Linked DNA regions of Homo sapiens. The protein of the gene in region 2 interacts with the protein of the main gene of each other region in a biochemical or structural test. Each region holds a gene or a part of one and is shown on either strand. Other genes may lie near its edges.

Evidence for each region. Proteins that work in one complex are often made in the same cells at the same time.
Region 1: of the proteins of CUL2 (region 2) and DCUN1D4, one has a biochemical effect on the other in vitro, tested with the Homo sapiens proteins (2 studies listed by BioGRID, with this or other methods).

What each region holds. Positions count from the first base shown.
Region 1 is NC_000004.12:51,846,153-51,853,181, reverse strand, and holds part of DCUN1D4 (DCN1-like protein 4), read right to left. Parts: intron 4,978-7,029; exon of another isoform or gene 4,815-4,977; intron 4,761-4,814; exon of another isoform or gene 1-4,760. UniProt on the Homo sapiens protein: Contributes to the neddylation of all cullins by transferring NEDD8 from N-terminally acetylated NEDD8-conjugating E2s enzyme to different cullin C-terminal domain-RBX complexes which are necessary for the activation of cullin-RING E3 ubiquitin ligases (CRLs).
Region 2 is NC_000010.11:35,038,319-35,045,347, forward strand, and holds part of CUL2 (cullin-2), read right to left. Parts: intron 6,551-7,029; coding exon 6,454-6,550; intron 6,359-6,453; coding exon 6,248-6,358; intron 765-6,247; coding exon 602-764; intron 1-601.

The sequences.
Region 1 (7,029 bases), on a different chromosome or scaffold from region 2:
CCCAAGGGAGGCAGCATCCATCCATCGCCCACCACACTGCCTGTGCCTGCTGGTGCTATCCCAAGGGACTCAGTCACTTCAGGACACCCGTCTGGCTGCACTCCCAATGTGACATGGTACAAAGGGCCCTAGCTTCATTCTCCTCACCCCACCTACCCACTGAAGGTGAGCACAAATGATCTGTACTACCCACTGAAGCACACAGAATCACTGGGTAGTTCACAGTAAAAATCTTTCCATCTCACTAATGTTAAATGAGCCCAGATTTTGGTTAAAGAATGTCAATCAGCTCTGATAACATAAAGCCCTGGGTTGGAGTCAGAGCTCCAACTGAGTCCCAACTGAGTGACCCTGTACATGCTTCCAAACTTCACTGTGCCCGTGTCCTCATCCATAAAGCCGAAATAACAGAACCTCTTTGCGAAGCTACTGTGGGGATTATTAAATGAGATGGTGCATGTCAAGCACTTAGCACAGTGCTGGTCCATATTATGTGCCAATCAACGTTAATTGTTTTCATCCCTATTATTATTTAGAACGTAGAAGACACTGAGACAGACTGAACCTAGAACTACAAAAAGACAGGGCAGAAGAGATCACAAGGTGATGGTGTTTAAAACTACTAATTCACTAGCTATTGGACTTAAATGTACAACTATCCCGTTTCCTGTTTAATTAATAATTAAGAAGTGATCTGTGGCTTAATTTTGGGAATTGCATATGTAGGACAAGACATTAAACTTACCCTAACCTACAGGAAAAAAAATAAAAATAATTTCAAAAATGTTATGTAAAAATGATGTTAGTAGTTGTTTTCTAGTTTTGCTGCAATGTCGTTGAGATCTCCTATATTTAAAAATAACAAAGTCTATTTAAATAAAATCTAAGAAGACTAAAAATGACTATTTCATTAGTTAAGAGTATGAAAATACTTTGCCACAATTCTTCAGTTTCCCACTTAAAATCAGTTTTTAAATGTCTACTCTCATTGTAAGCAAACCAGCAAAAATGAGAGGGGATGAAGAAGAATGGGAAAGAAGAGACTCAGAAATCCCAGATCCTGATCCTGCTGGGACTCATTCCAAGAAGAAAAGAACCAAGAGATAATCCATCAGCTGGCTCTGTCAGCATCATTCATAGGCCAGTGACAAAAGAAAAAAAAAGAATTCCAATATACATGCAGTGTTCCAATCAGGGTTCAATGAAAAGCACAAACAAAATGTTAAGAATGATTTCAGTGGCAGTAGAGGGTTACCAAGACCATGGAGTCAGAATGCTTGAGTTAGAATCTCAATTCACCACTTATAAGCTGTGTGACCTTGAGAAGGGGAGTTAACCTTTCTACACCTCAGCGTCCTCATCTGTGAAACAGAGATAATAACAGTCCCTAACTTATTGAGGGTTGCTGTGAGGATTAAATGAGTTAATGCAGGCAAAGCAGTTGAAGCAAATCCAAGATCATCACTGAATTCGTGTTAGTCCCTCCCCATTCCCCTTTGCTCCTCCTCCCTCCCTGTGCCCCACCTGGGACTTCTCTTTCCTTCTCTCAGTTCCTTTCCACTCATACACTCTCCCTGGTGCCTCTTTTGAGTTCTTCCCACCGACCCCACCCCACCCCTGCCACCAGCTCCTGCCTAGCCCTGCACCTCACCTTCCCCTCCACTCTAGCCTACCAAACACCCACTCTCCTGCCACAGTTCTCTGTCCCCACCATGCCATGTTGTCGCTGGGCTTGGAAAGCTCCCACCTGACCCCATATGCCACCTGCACATGCATACACATCCTGTTCTTCACATAATCCAACTTCAAAAGCTAAAACTCACATGACAACTGCTAACCATTCCCCACATGTTCTCAAAGCCCCCGGGGCATCCATCTAACCTAGCAGGCATCATCGTCCCATGCATCCATTCCTTCTGTCTCCACAATGAACTCACTGAAGGAAGCTCCTGAAGCCCCGGTCTCCCCCACACAGTCCTGCCTGTGACAGCAGCACCTGGCAGCAAAAATCCCCTTGAATGTTTGCTGAATGGCTGAGTGAGGGAATGCCTCATTTGGTTCTGTTCTTTCTTATAACTTTTCTTCTCAAGAGTGATTTTTTAAAGGCTACCTAGGAGACTGTCATCACACAGTAATTGTAAGCATCAAAAACACTTTACGTGTTTCATCTCATTTAATCCTTTGGACCACTTATGATTTTTGCCTCCTACTTTCTTCCCTCTGCCCTCCCCCACAACTCTAAGCACCCCAGCCTCTGCTGTTCCTCAAATATAGGCCTGCTCCCCACTCTGAGCTTCTGCATTTGTATTCTCTCTGCCTGGAATGGCCCCTCAGCTCCATCAGGGCTTAGCTTAAAACCTCCTTAGTGAAGCCTTTCCTGGCTCCACTATTTAAAATTACAACACCCTCCACCCCACCCCACGCCCGCACACAGGGGTGCCTGCATGCACCCCTTCCCTGCTGTTTTTCTCTACAGAACCTATCACCATCTGACGTATTACACAATTTACTTGTTACTATCTGCCCCCTCCCCTACACTAAAAGGAAAACTTCATGAAATATGAAGAGCAGGGCCTGGTACATAGTAGATACCCAATAAACACTTGGTGACTGAACAGCCTTCAACAGGCAATTTTTAGGCATGAGGGCTCTGAAGCGCACACAGAGCAGCTGGGTAACTCTACTCCAGTCCCTTGGCTAGGAGATGACAGAGCAAGGATTTGAATTCAGCCATTTTGGCTTTCTTGCCTCCCAACCTGACCCAGATAACAATTAAAAGACATCATCACATCCAGGGAGAAAACCCGAGCCCTGCATGTCTACAGGCCACAGAGAAGCCAGAAAAGCCATCCACTGGAAAGCCGCTCACCAGAACAAGTCATCTAACTCAAGACACTTCTGTGCGGCAAAGTATTATTTATCAGACTGATAATTTATACAGCACTGATAGTTTTTCTTTGGATTTCATAGTTCAGTAAAAACGAGAGATTTATCATGCCTTTATTATACTGTAATATCCTCAGGAACAGCAAAGTGACAAATCATCAGCTAATATGGAGGAGGCCTAAGGTAACATATGTTAAAAGCCAACAATTGTGGTAGTGGGGCAGGAGGAGAAGCACTGACTACAAGGGGACACAAGGGAACTTTTGGGGTAATGAAATGTTCTATATCTTTAGTAAATTCACCCAACAACACTTAAAATGAGTATAATTTTATAATACGTGAAATTATACCTAAATAATGTTGACTAAAAAGGTATTTGGTACATCAGATGTAATTTTTGGCTAAACAAAATAAACATTCCACTAAAACACGCACACACACACACGCACGCACACACACACATATTTCTGTAGCTAATATTCCCACATCAGAGCCAAAAAAAAAATGCACAAGGAGTTATGTATTAGCTCCTAGGCATCCCAACTTTTGGGGGACAAAGAATTAGGAAAAAGCAGCAGTAAAGAGTGGCACATGATGAGACCCAGTGGGCTGGGCTAGTGTGTGGTTCGGGAGTCCTGCCTGACCACCAGCAAACACAGCTCCCACGACCCACAGCTGATATCGACTGTGTCCTCCTCCAGTCCTCTGGGTCACCTCTGACCAGAATGTACAGGCAGCCAGGATGAAAAAGATACATCACTGCTCTTCACAAGGGCTTCTACCACGTATCTGACCAGCGACAGTGACAAGTCTGGATGCTGAAGTATCAGAATTCTTAGTTGAGAGCATCAGAAACTAATTCTAGGTAATTTAAACAGAAAAGTGATTTAAAAAAAGGGGAGGCGGCTATTAGACAGTTCACAGAATCTCCCCCTGGCCATAACAATGCCTAAGGGGACACAGCAGACTGCATCATCATTGCAGCAACAACTAGACCTTGCCTCTAGAAGCAGCACAGCAGCCACCACTGTGCATCCCCCCAGAAAATGGCCACATGGGCTACTCTTCTTTCCTTGCCTCCAGCCTCAGGTTCACAGTCTCAGGCGAGTGTGTCTGAGAAGATCTGCCTGCCAGGGTAAGAATTCTCCAATCAGACCAAGAGTCAATGGACTGACAGTGTCCATTACAGACACTAATCATAAACTAATATGGAGGAGGCCTAAGATGACATATGTTAAAAGCCAACAATTGTGGTCGTGGGGCAGGGGGAGAAGCACAAATGGATTACTCCCCGTCTCTGCAAATCTACTGATACAGGCCAGCAAAAAATTTCACAAGGAAAAAAAAATCCTCGAAGGCAGAACTAAAATAAATCATACCACAGGTAATGCTATTTGAAGAGGGCAGGGGTCTTTTTCATATCTAGTGTTTTTTTCAGTACATTAGTTACAAATGACAAGCCTATCTTCCTAGATTGAACATAACTCATTAACAGCATTTTCTGATTAAAAGCAATTCAAACCTGAAGTAGCAGATACTTTGCTACATCTAAAACTGTCACACAATGATTGTTAAAATACCTAATTCTATTTAGAATGCATTTCAATGTTTTCCTTCTTAAAACACATTTTAAAATACATGTTCTGCTTAGAATACTTCTCAAGAGGTACTTCTCCTAATGTAAATTTCAAAAGAAAAAAAGCAAGCTATGAGAAGAATTAATACCAATTCGAGTTGACCAACTATAAAAATTTACCAGCATTTATGTCAGATTCATCAAAGAAAATTTTACTCTGTAAATCTGAAGAAAGACTTTCAGTGATCTCACTATATTGTTAACTTAAGAAATAAATCCTTAGGACCAGAATATGGATATAAAACAAAAAGAAGGGAAAAGGACAAACACTCTAGGCCCCTTAACATCAGACCTGTTAATGCTGCCTTAACCTTGTGCAGGTAGGACGCTGACACGAGAGACCAGAAACGGACGTGTGCACATTCACAAACACTCCTTCTGTTCCCTCAGCACATCACCAGCATTTTACTCTTTCCTTGAGAATTTCTCCACGCCACATTCTCTAAAACTGATATCTGCATGTTTGAAAAATATTAAATTAGTTTGCATACAACTGACTTTGTCTAAAAAATGCAAAGAATGAGTAGGTGAAAGCTTGTGTTCCTTGAAGAAAAATCTAAAGATAATGAAAGACAACAGGAACAGGAAGAATTAATTTTTCTAGATAATGCACAAGTTATTCAATAGTTGATCATTTAAGTTCAATTCAATACATATTTGGGTAGCTATGCAAGGCATCATGCTAGATGCTAAAGTGGATACTGGGTAAGACATGGTCCCAGATCTCAAAAAGGTAATAATCTAATTGGGGAGGGGAAATAAAAGTAAACAAGCAGCTATTGTTATGTAACATAAAACTGAGTAACAGAAGGAAGCACTGCTTCAGAGATTCCATGAAAGGAGAGTCTGCTAGAGAGGGAGCACAGTAAAGAAAAATTCTAAAACAGCAGCACTGAGGGCAGCTGGAGCCGGGTGCAGTGGCGTGCATCTATAACTTCAGCTACTCAGAGACTGAGGTGGAAGGACCCCTGAAGCCCAGAGTTCGAGTCCAGCCTAGGCAACATAACAAGACCCAACCTCTAAAAAAAAAAAAACAAAAAAGAAAGAAAAATGTATTGCTGGTTATTATAACACTGTAAGAAAGGCTGTCTCAGACATAAGGCCATGGCAATAGGTATGGGAAAGAGAGGCTGGGCATGGGAAGAGATGCAATCTCTCCTTGCCACTGACCAGGGAAGAAGAGGATAAGAAATGTCCAGGATTTCAGTGTGGGTTATTAAAATTACTGCAGCTTCATTTACCAAATGAATAAAATTTATTAGTTTTGTTCTCTTCTTTGACTATTAAAAAGCTCAGTGCCAAATATTTCTAACATATGGCAAGTGTTTCTGTGTACCTTACAAGTCTATATATAAATTTTTCTTCTCTTGACAGGGTTTTATCTATATTTAGCAAGTCACCCCTAATTCTTTTAGAATAAGGCAGAAAATAAATCAACGTAAAGGTTGAGACCAAGCCAGAGACAGCTGGCCAAAGTAGCTGGTTCAGGGATATAACCTGCAAGTTGCCAACCCAGCGCATTCTTCTCACCCTTCTTCCACCCTACGAAAGGCCATATCTTACAAGAGATGCTGGTAAATGCCAGACATTCACTGTGTCAGGCTTCCTCACAGCTAGCAGTGGCATGAGATCAGTTCAATCCAATGACACTGAAATGGAACTCTCCAAAGTGAGTTTCTGCAAAAGACTTCTCTGTTAACAGGGAGTTATAAGGAAATATGCACCTTCCTTCCCTGCTTTCCAATCCAGGCATGATGTCTGGTGCTACGGCAACCATACTGCAAACATGAGGCAAATGAGCCTGAGGAATAAAAGCTAAAACACTAATAGAAGAAGAAAAAGATGCAGAACCTAGATCCTTAATGACATCATTAAGCCACTGCACCAGCTTTAGAACCAACTACTTCTAGGTTTCTTGCTACCGAACAATAATAAGCCCTATTATTTAAGCCATTAATTTGAGCATTGTATTGGCAAAGGCATCCTAACTGATACAAGAGATCATCATGAGGTCAGTTTCTCACAGGTTGATTTTTATACTGCTAAGTTAGCAGGATTATTAGCTATTAATTATTAGTTATAATTAGCAGATGATGATTGAGATAATAATGTAAACGTAGCCAGGAAGAAGGTAATAAGCCAAGAAGAGCTGCTGGGAGCAACTTAACATAAAAACAGAAAAGGAGACAATGATAAAGTTTGAAAAAACATGATTAAGTGCCAGTAGGGGTACACAGAGTTAACAACAGAGGAAGAAGAGAGTGAAGTCCACTAAGAGAAAATGAGGCAGGCCTTCTTTTCTGGCAATGTTACAGACAAGATTACCTAAAAATCCTTCTTAATATAAAACAGTCAAAAATTCTGGATAACGTGTAAGAAACATCTGTTTAAATGCACAGCTACGTTCACAAGAAAATAAAGGACCTCCCCAAGCGCCAAAAATCAAAAAGGAACCTAAAAACCAGAGCAGAAAGTGTGTAGGAGCCTAGGGCTTTGGGGAATGGAGG
Region 2 (7,029 bases):
TCCGAGACCAGCCTGACCAACATGGTGAAACCCTGTCTCTACTAAAAGTACAAAAAAATTAGCCAGGTGTGGTGATGAGCGCCTGTAATCCCAGCTACTCAGGAGTCTGAGGCAGGAGAATCACTTGAATCTGGGAGGCGGAGGTTGCAGCGAGCCAAGAGCACGCCGCTGCACTCCAGCCTGGGCGACAGAGTGAGACTCTGTCTCAAAAAAAAAAAAAAAAAAAAAAAAATCAGATATAGCTGATTTTTTATATTATATAAATTATTACATTTATTACATAATATTTGTATTTCCTTTTTATAGTCTTTGCCTTTATTCCTACTGTTTATCAGGAATTCTAAATGCATTAAGGAAATTAGCTCTTGTAATATATAAAAATGTATAAACACAATTTCCCACTTTTTCTTCTGATTTTAGAACACTCTGAAAACACTTTCCTAAAATAGTCTTTCAAAATAAAGTATTAATAATCTGTAAAAGGTTATTTAAAATATTTTAAAGACTATTACTAAAATAGGCATTAAATCAAGGGTGACTAGAGGATGATATAAAAGGTGGATTTATAATTTAATTTCTACTCATGTTTGGTGTCACTTACCATTTTTTTTCTCTTGTCGAATTATATTATGACATTCTGCATGTAAAAACTGTAAGTGGTCTGCTACCATTCGTTGTTGACATTCATGAATCACCTTAGTATATGAACTTGGATGTAGGTATTTTCGACATCGAATTTCTTCATCTTTTAATCTACCTAGAACCTATAAAAATATTTTCTTACAGTCATGAACACAAAGTTTTACTATGAGGAAAAATCTGTAATATCAGCAAGTAACTCAGCCAAATTTTAATGGCTGAATTAAACATGGCAAAGGTAATAAGGGTTACATAAGCAATTTAAACCCACATTCTATAAATCATTTCAAATTTTTATTTAAGCTACTAGCTGTCATCTACATTCCACCAGTCTTATAAGCAAGAACTAAAGTTAAATAGTCTGCATTTTGTCTTCATTTACCTACACCATTCATCCTATTACATGGACAACATAACATGTAACAGGAAAAGTGGGTACAGATGATTAAATTCAGAACAGGTGATCTCTGTTATGAATAACTATCAAACTAAAAAATAAATTATATTGAAATCAAGTAGATGAATCTAATTATTTTACGTTGGTTTCTCTTCTTGTAAATGGAACTGTATGTGCATGATAGTTAACTACCATATTAAAGATTTAATTAAAATTTTTGAAAGTAGGGGCTGGACATGGTGGCTCACACCTGTAATCCCAGTACTTTGGGAGGCCAAGGCAGGTGGATCATCTGAGGTCAGGAGTTTGAGACCAGCATGGCCAATATGGCGAAACCCTGTCTCTACTAAAAATATAAAAATTAGCCGGGCATGCCTGTAATCCCAGCTCCTTGGGAGGCCAGGGCAAGAGAATCACTTCATCCCGGGAGGTGGGGGTTGTAACGAGCCAAGATCGCACCACTGCACTCCAGCCTGTGTGACAGAGTGAGACACTGTCTCAAAAAAATAAAAATAAGGCCAGGCAAGGTGGCTCATGCCTGCAATCCCAGCACTTTGGGAGGCCGAGGTGGGTGGATCACATGAGGTCAGGAGTTTGAGACCAGCCTGGCCAACATGGTGAAACCCCGTCTCTACAAAAATACAAAAAATTAGCCAGGTGTGGTGGCAGGTGCCTGTAGCACCAGCTACTCGGGAGGCTGAGGCAGAAGAACTGCTTGAACCCAGGAGGAGGAGGTTGCAGTGAGCCGACATCACGCCACTGCACTCTAGCCTAGGCAATAAGAGCGAGGCTCTGTCTCAAAAAATAAATATAAATAAAAAATAAAAAATTTGAAAGTAAATATAATTTAGTCATAGTCAAGTATGTCAATCAAGACTTTTATTAAAGTTTATCCTACATAAAGCGCTGAGCTACAAATAACACTGGTTAATATCAACAAGAACTAGCCCATAAGGAAAATAACCAAAGAATTTGACTAATTTCTGTCTCAAGACAAAACAACAACATATACACAGACAAATGCACCGGCTTGGAAACACTCTGGAACATAAAGCTGTGTAATTAGAGTTTCTGAAATTAAGTGTTCCCGGGGAACTACATACACCTGGCACTTTGGAGAGTGCTGCTGAGTTGGCCTGGGCACAAGGAGTGAAAATCATTCCTGGAAAGCGGATCAGAAATTTTCAATAAAAATGAGGCTCCAGACAGTAGGTTCCCACAGTCCTGTCTTTCCTATTGTGCGACCCTTTGAAGCCAGGAGTTCAGGGCAAAGTCACAGACTCAGGTCGGGCAAGAAGGGGTCTAGAGCAGCAGTCCCTAACCTTTTAGGCACCAGGCTCTGCTTTTGTGGAAGACAATTTTTCCACAGACGGAGTGCGGGCGGCATTGGTGGGGGCAGGTGGCTTCCAGGTGAAGTATTCCACCTCAGATCCTCAGGCATTAGATTCTTCTAAAGAGCGCACATCCTAGACCCCTTGCATGCAGAGTTCACAATGGAGTTTGCGCTCTGTGAGAATCTATGAGAATCTAATGCTGCTGCTGATGTGACAGGAGGCGGAGCTCAGGCAGTAGGTAATGCTCACACAGTGGCTGCTCACTCCCTGCTGTGCAGCCCGGTTCCTCCTAACAGGCCACAGGTCAGTACTGGTCCTCCCCAGTTCCTAACAGGCCACAGGTCAGTACTGGTCCTCAGCCTGAGGGTCAGGGACCCCTGGTCTAGAGGACAAAAGTGTTCACCACATATTACATCAGCTAAGAAAGGCACTTTGATTAACAATAAATCCTTTAAGGGCTATTTTTATAACAAAAAGGATTAAGTCTATTAGTCATTCAGAGCATACTATAGTGACTTTAATCTGCTTGCCAAGTTAATGCAACAGGAATTACAGTGGGTCTGAGAGAGGTGAAGGAGGATGGAAGAAGGAAAAAATAAAACAATGATAACTTGGGAGAGAGAGGCGCATATCAAGAGAAATGTAGAGAAGGTTGGACTGCCCCAGTGCAGGGCTTCAAACAGCTGTAAAACCCCTGGGGGAAAGAAAGGCCAAAGCTATAAGAGGAACGCAGCAAGGAGGCAGGAAGGCTGTACTGACTCATTCCCCAATTAACTAAATGGAGAGCAAAGCCCAGGGTTTTGCCCTTGAAGCTAATATGGTCCAACATTATTTCCTGAAATGAGCTTTTCTTTTTCTTTCTTTTGTCAGACAGGATCTCGCTCTCTGGCCCAGGCAGGAGGGCAGTGGTGCAATCTCGGCTCACTGCAACTTCCGCCTCTCAGGCTCAAGTGATCTTCCCACCTCAGCGTCCCAAGAGCTATGACCAGACGACTACACCACCATGTGTGGCTAGTTTTTTAATTTTTTGTAGAGATGGGGTTTTGCCACGTTGCCCAGGCTTGTCCTGAACTCCTGGACTTGCGTAATCTGCCCGCCTCAGCCTCCCAAAGTGCTGCAATTACAGGTCTGAGCCACCGTGCCCAGCCTGAAATAAGCTTTTCTAATAAACATTCTTTTCCAAACATAATTTATTCCAATGTCCCTCCTTCCCTTTTAACACCTTGAGATGTAATTTACATATTAAATAATTCACCCATTTAAAGTGTGCAATTCAATGGTTTTGGTATATTACATTATCAATGTTTTTAAATTGTGGTAAAAACATAGATAATAAAATTTACATTAGCCATTTTTATGTGGGCAATTCAGTGGCATTAAATAACGCTCACTATGTTGTGTAATCACCCCCATTGTCTACTTCCAAATATTTTTCATTACCCCATCAGAAACTTTATAACCATTAAGTAACAACTCCTCACATCCTCCTCCCCTGATAACCTCTAATCTATCTTCTGTCCTTTTGAATTTGTCTGTTCTAGATATTTCCTATAAATTGAACCACAGAATATTTGCCCTTTTGTGTCTGTCTTTTTCCACTTAGCATAACATTTTCATGGTTCATCCATGTTGTATCATGTATAACTTCAATTCTTTTTAAAGACTGTGTGGTGTTGTGATATGTAAGTACATTGGTTTTCATCTGTGGTTCCTGGTTCATAACTCCCTTAGCCCTAGTTACAGTCTTTAGTTATAATGTTGAGTGTGTTAGGTCTCAGGAAACAGAATTTCTCTCCTACTCTCCTTTCACCTGCCTCAAGGCAGGACTCTAATCTTGCCCTACCTTTCTGACTGTGGGTCATAAGACCCTCCCCAGAGAAAGCCCCACCCTGTACGCTGGGGGAAAGACTACTGACATCATGAAGCTTCCACAAAAATCCAAGAAGACTGGGTTCCACAGGGATAGAAGCTCCTGCACTCATGGTGATTTCAGACCTTCCCTTATGTGTCTCCTCAAGTGGTTGTTTATTTGTATCCTCTAAAATATCCTTCTTAATGAACTAGTAAACATTAAGTGAGTGTTTCCCTAAGTTCTGTGAGCTGCTCTAGCAAATTAATGGAACCCAAACAGTGTACTGTAGGACTTCAACTTGAAAGCCAGTCGGTCAGTAGTCCGGAGGCCCAGACTTGTGACTGGTGTCTGGGGGTGTGCAGGGCAGTCTTGGAGACTCAGTCCCCAAACTGTGGGATTAGCCACTATCTCAAGTAGATGGTGTTAGAGTTGAACTGGAGGACACCTAGCTGGTGTCTGCTGCTTGGTGTGTGGGAGAAGAGAGCCACACCTTTGTTTACAGAAGCCTTCTGTGCTGATGATTGTTGCTGTGGTGTGAGAGTAGAGGAAAAACATGGTTTGAGAGAGTTTTTCACTACACACGATGAATAATATTCCAATGCACATATGTATCACATTTTGCTTATTCTTTCAACTTCTAACAGACATCTGGGCTACTGCCACCACTTGCCAGTGGCATATTTTTGACAGCCAGACAGAGCAAAGTGCATGTATCACAGATAATCTGTGTGTGATTCTTGGGGCTGGATCTAGAGGCTTCAACAAAAGTCTAAGGTGCAATAAGGGCTAAGAGCTTAGAACCACTGATCTAGTGTAACCTGAACTTAATTGATGGGGGAAAAGTTCCAGATAATTTGCTCAGGGGACAGAGCTAACTAGTAAGAAAAGCAGGAAGATAATCAAACAACTAAGACCTCTAGATCTGGGCTTTGTGGATGACACAACAGTGTATCGGTAAGCACGGATGCTTTGTGACTTGTGGCCTAGGGATGTAGGATGACAGCTCACCCACTTAAACTACTCGACCTTTCTTGGCTACATAAACTAACACAAACCATCCCAAAATAAAATGCTTGAAATCCAACACTGCAGATTTAAAAACCTGGCTAGAAGTTCTAATATATCTTACATATGGTGGTTTAATTTGTATGAACACTTTTTTCTTCTACTACTGAGAAAATAAACATGGGATTTAACATATGATAACCAATATGTACTGGTTTAGTGATCAATTAAAATTTCTTGGCTGGGTGCAATGGCTCACATCTAAAATCCCAGCGCTTTGGGAGGCTGAGGCAGGAGGACTGCTCAAGTTGAGGAGTTCTGAGACCAGCCTGGGCAACACAGCAAGACCCCATCTCTATAACAAATTTTAAAAGTTGCTGGGCGTGGTGGTGTGTGCCTGTAGTCCCAGCTACTTCGTAGGCTGAGACAGGAGGACCACTTGAGCCTGGGAGCCATGATCAAGCCACTGCACTCTAGTCTGGGCACCAGAGCAAGACCACATCTCCAAAAAAAAAAAAAAAAAAAAAAAACACCTCACGTGGGGTTGTCTCTCAGCCTTTCAAGAACTTAACAGACCAAAAGAGTGACTCATCCAAATGTCTAGAATTACTATATTTTCCTCATATTTTTCCTCTCATTTTAAAGGAAGAAAAAAACCTCAACACAGAGCTTCTGCACTTATCCTATTCTCTAAACTAACCACTAAGCATGAAATCCAGTATAAACTGATTATTCTGCCAAGAATGTGCATATATATTAATTTCAAGGACAAGTAAACCAAGCAGTCAGGATTTATCAAAAAGCATCAATTATGATGAAAACTGGAAGGGTATTGTAAAGAGCAATGACTTATCAATCGATATTATATAATAACTGTAACTCAGAGTTAATGATTAAATAGATTAAATAAACAGAATATTTTTCCACCAAGAAACAAAACAAGAAAACTAAGAACGATGTTAAATAAAACCAGGCCAGATACAAAATAGATAAATGTATTCGATATGTTTTATTTCTTACCTTTTCCATATACTGTGAGCAGTTTGATTCTTGTAATAAATTTGAAGCTTCTTGTTTGTAATACTCTCCTGTTTCAGTCAGAAAGGGAGACTCAAAAATTTCCTGATAAAACTGAATAAATCAATTACATCATATTAGAAGAAATTAGAACAAGCAGTTTAAGAAATTAACAGTCTGATTATTTGTTTTTAAAGGAGGCTGTTTACCTTTAAGGGGAATTTTTTCTTATACTGTTCAACATGAACAAAGGAGTTAATAACCCCATGGATTACTTTCTGGTTTGGGTCTTCTCCACCACGATCACTAAAACAAGGTATAACACAAAATATTCTTGAGAATACAAATTATCTATGGAAATATACCCAAAATATGCCAAAATATGGCTCCTTATTCTATTGGTCTAATCAAAGTGTAAAGAACTATAAAAAGGTACATGCATGAATCTTAACAATGATTTTTTTTATATCACAGCTGAGTTAATATTCATGATAGTTAATGTATACATTAGATGTCATTTCAAGAAATAAAAAGAAAACTGATTGTAAAGTTCAAGATACTATGTCAGTAATAAGATAACACTTCTTTAATTTTAACAAAGTAGATACGAGCCCATCAATTCAAAACTTTAATACTGGCGGTTAAGAATGCTTGATTTTCACTCACTACAAACTACAAAGTCTTAATCATATTAAGACATGTAGGTGAAATGTTAGCTTTTCTAATAAAAGGAATATGAAATAGAACCAGGCACCGTGGCTCGTGCCTGTAATCCCAACACTTTG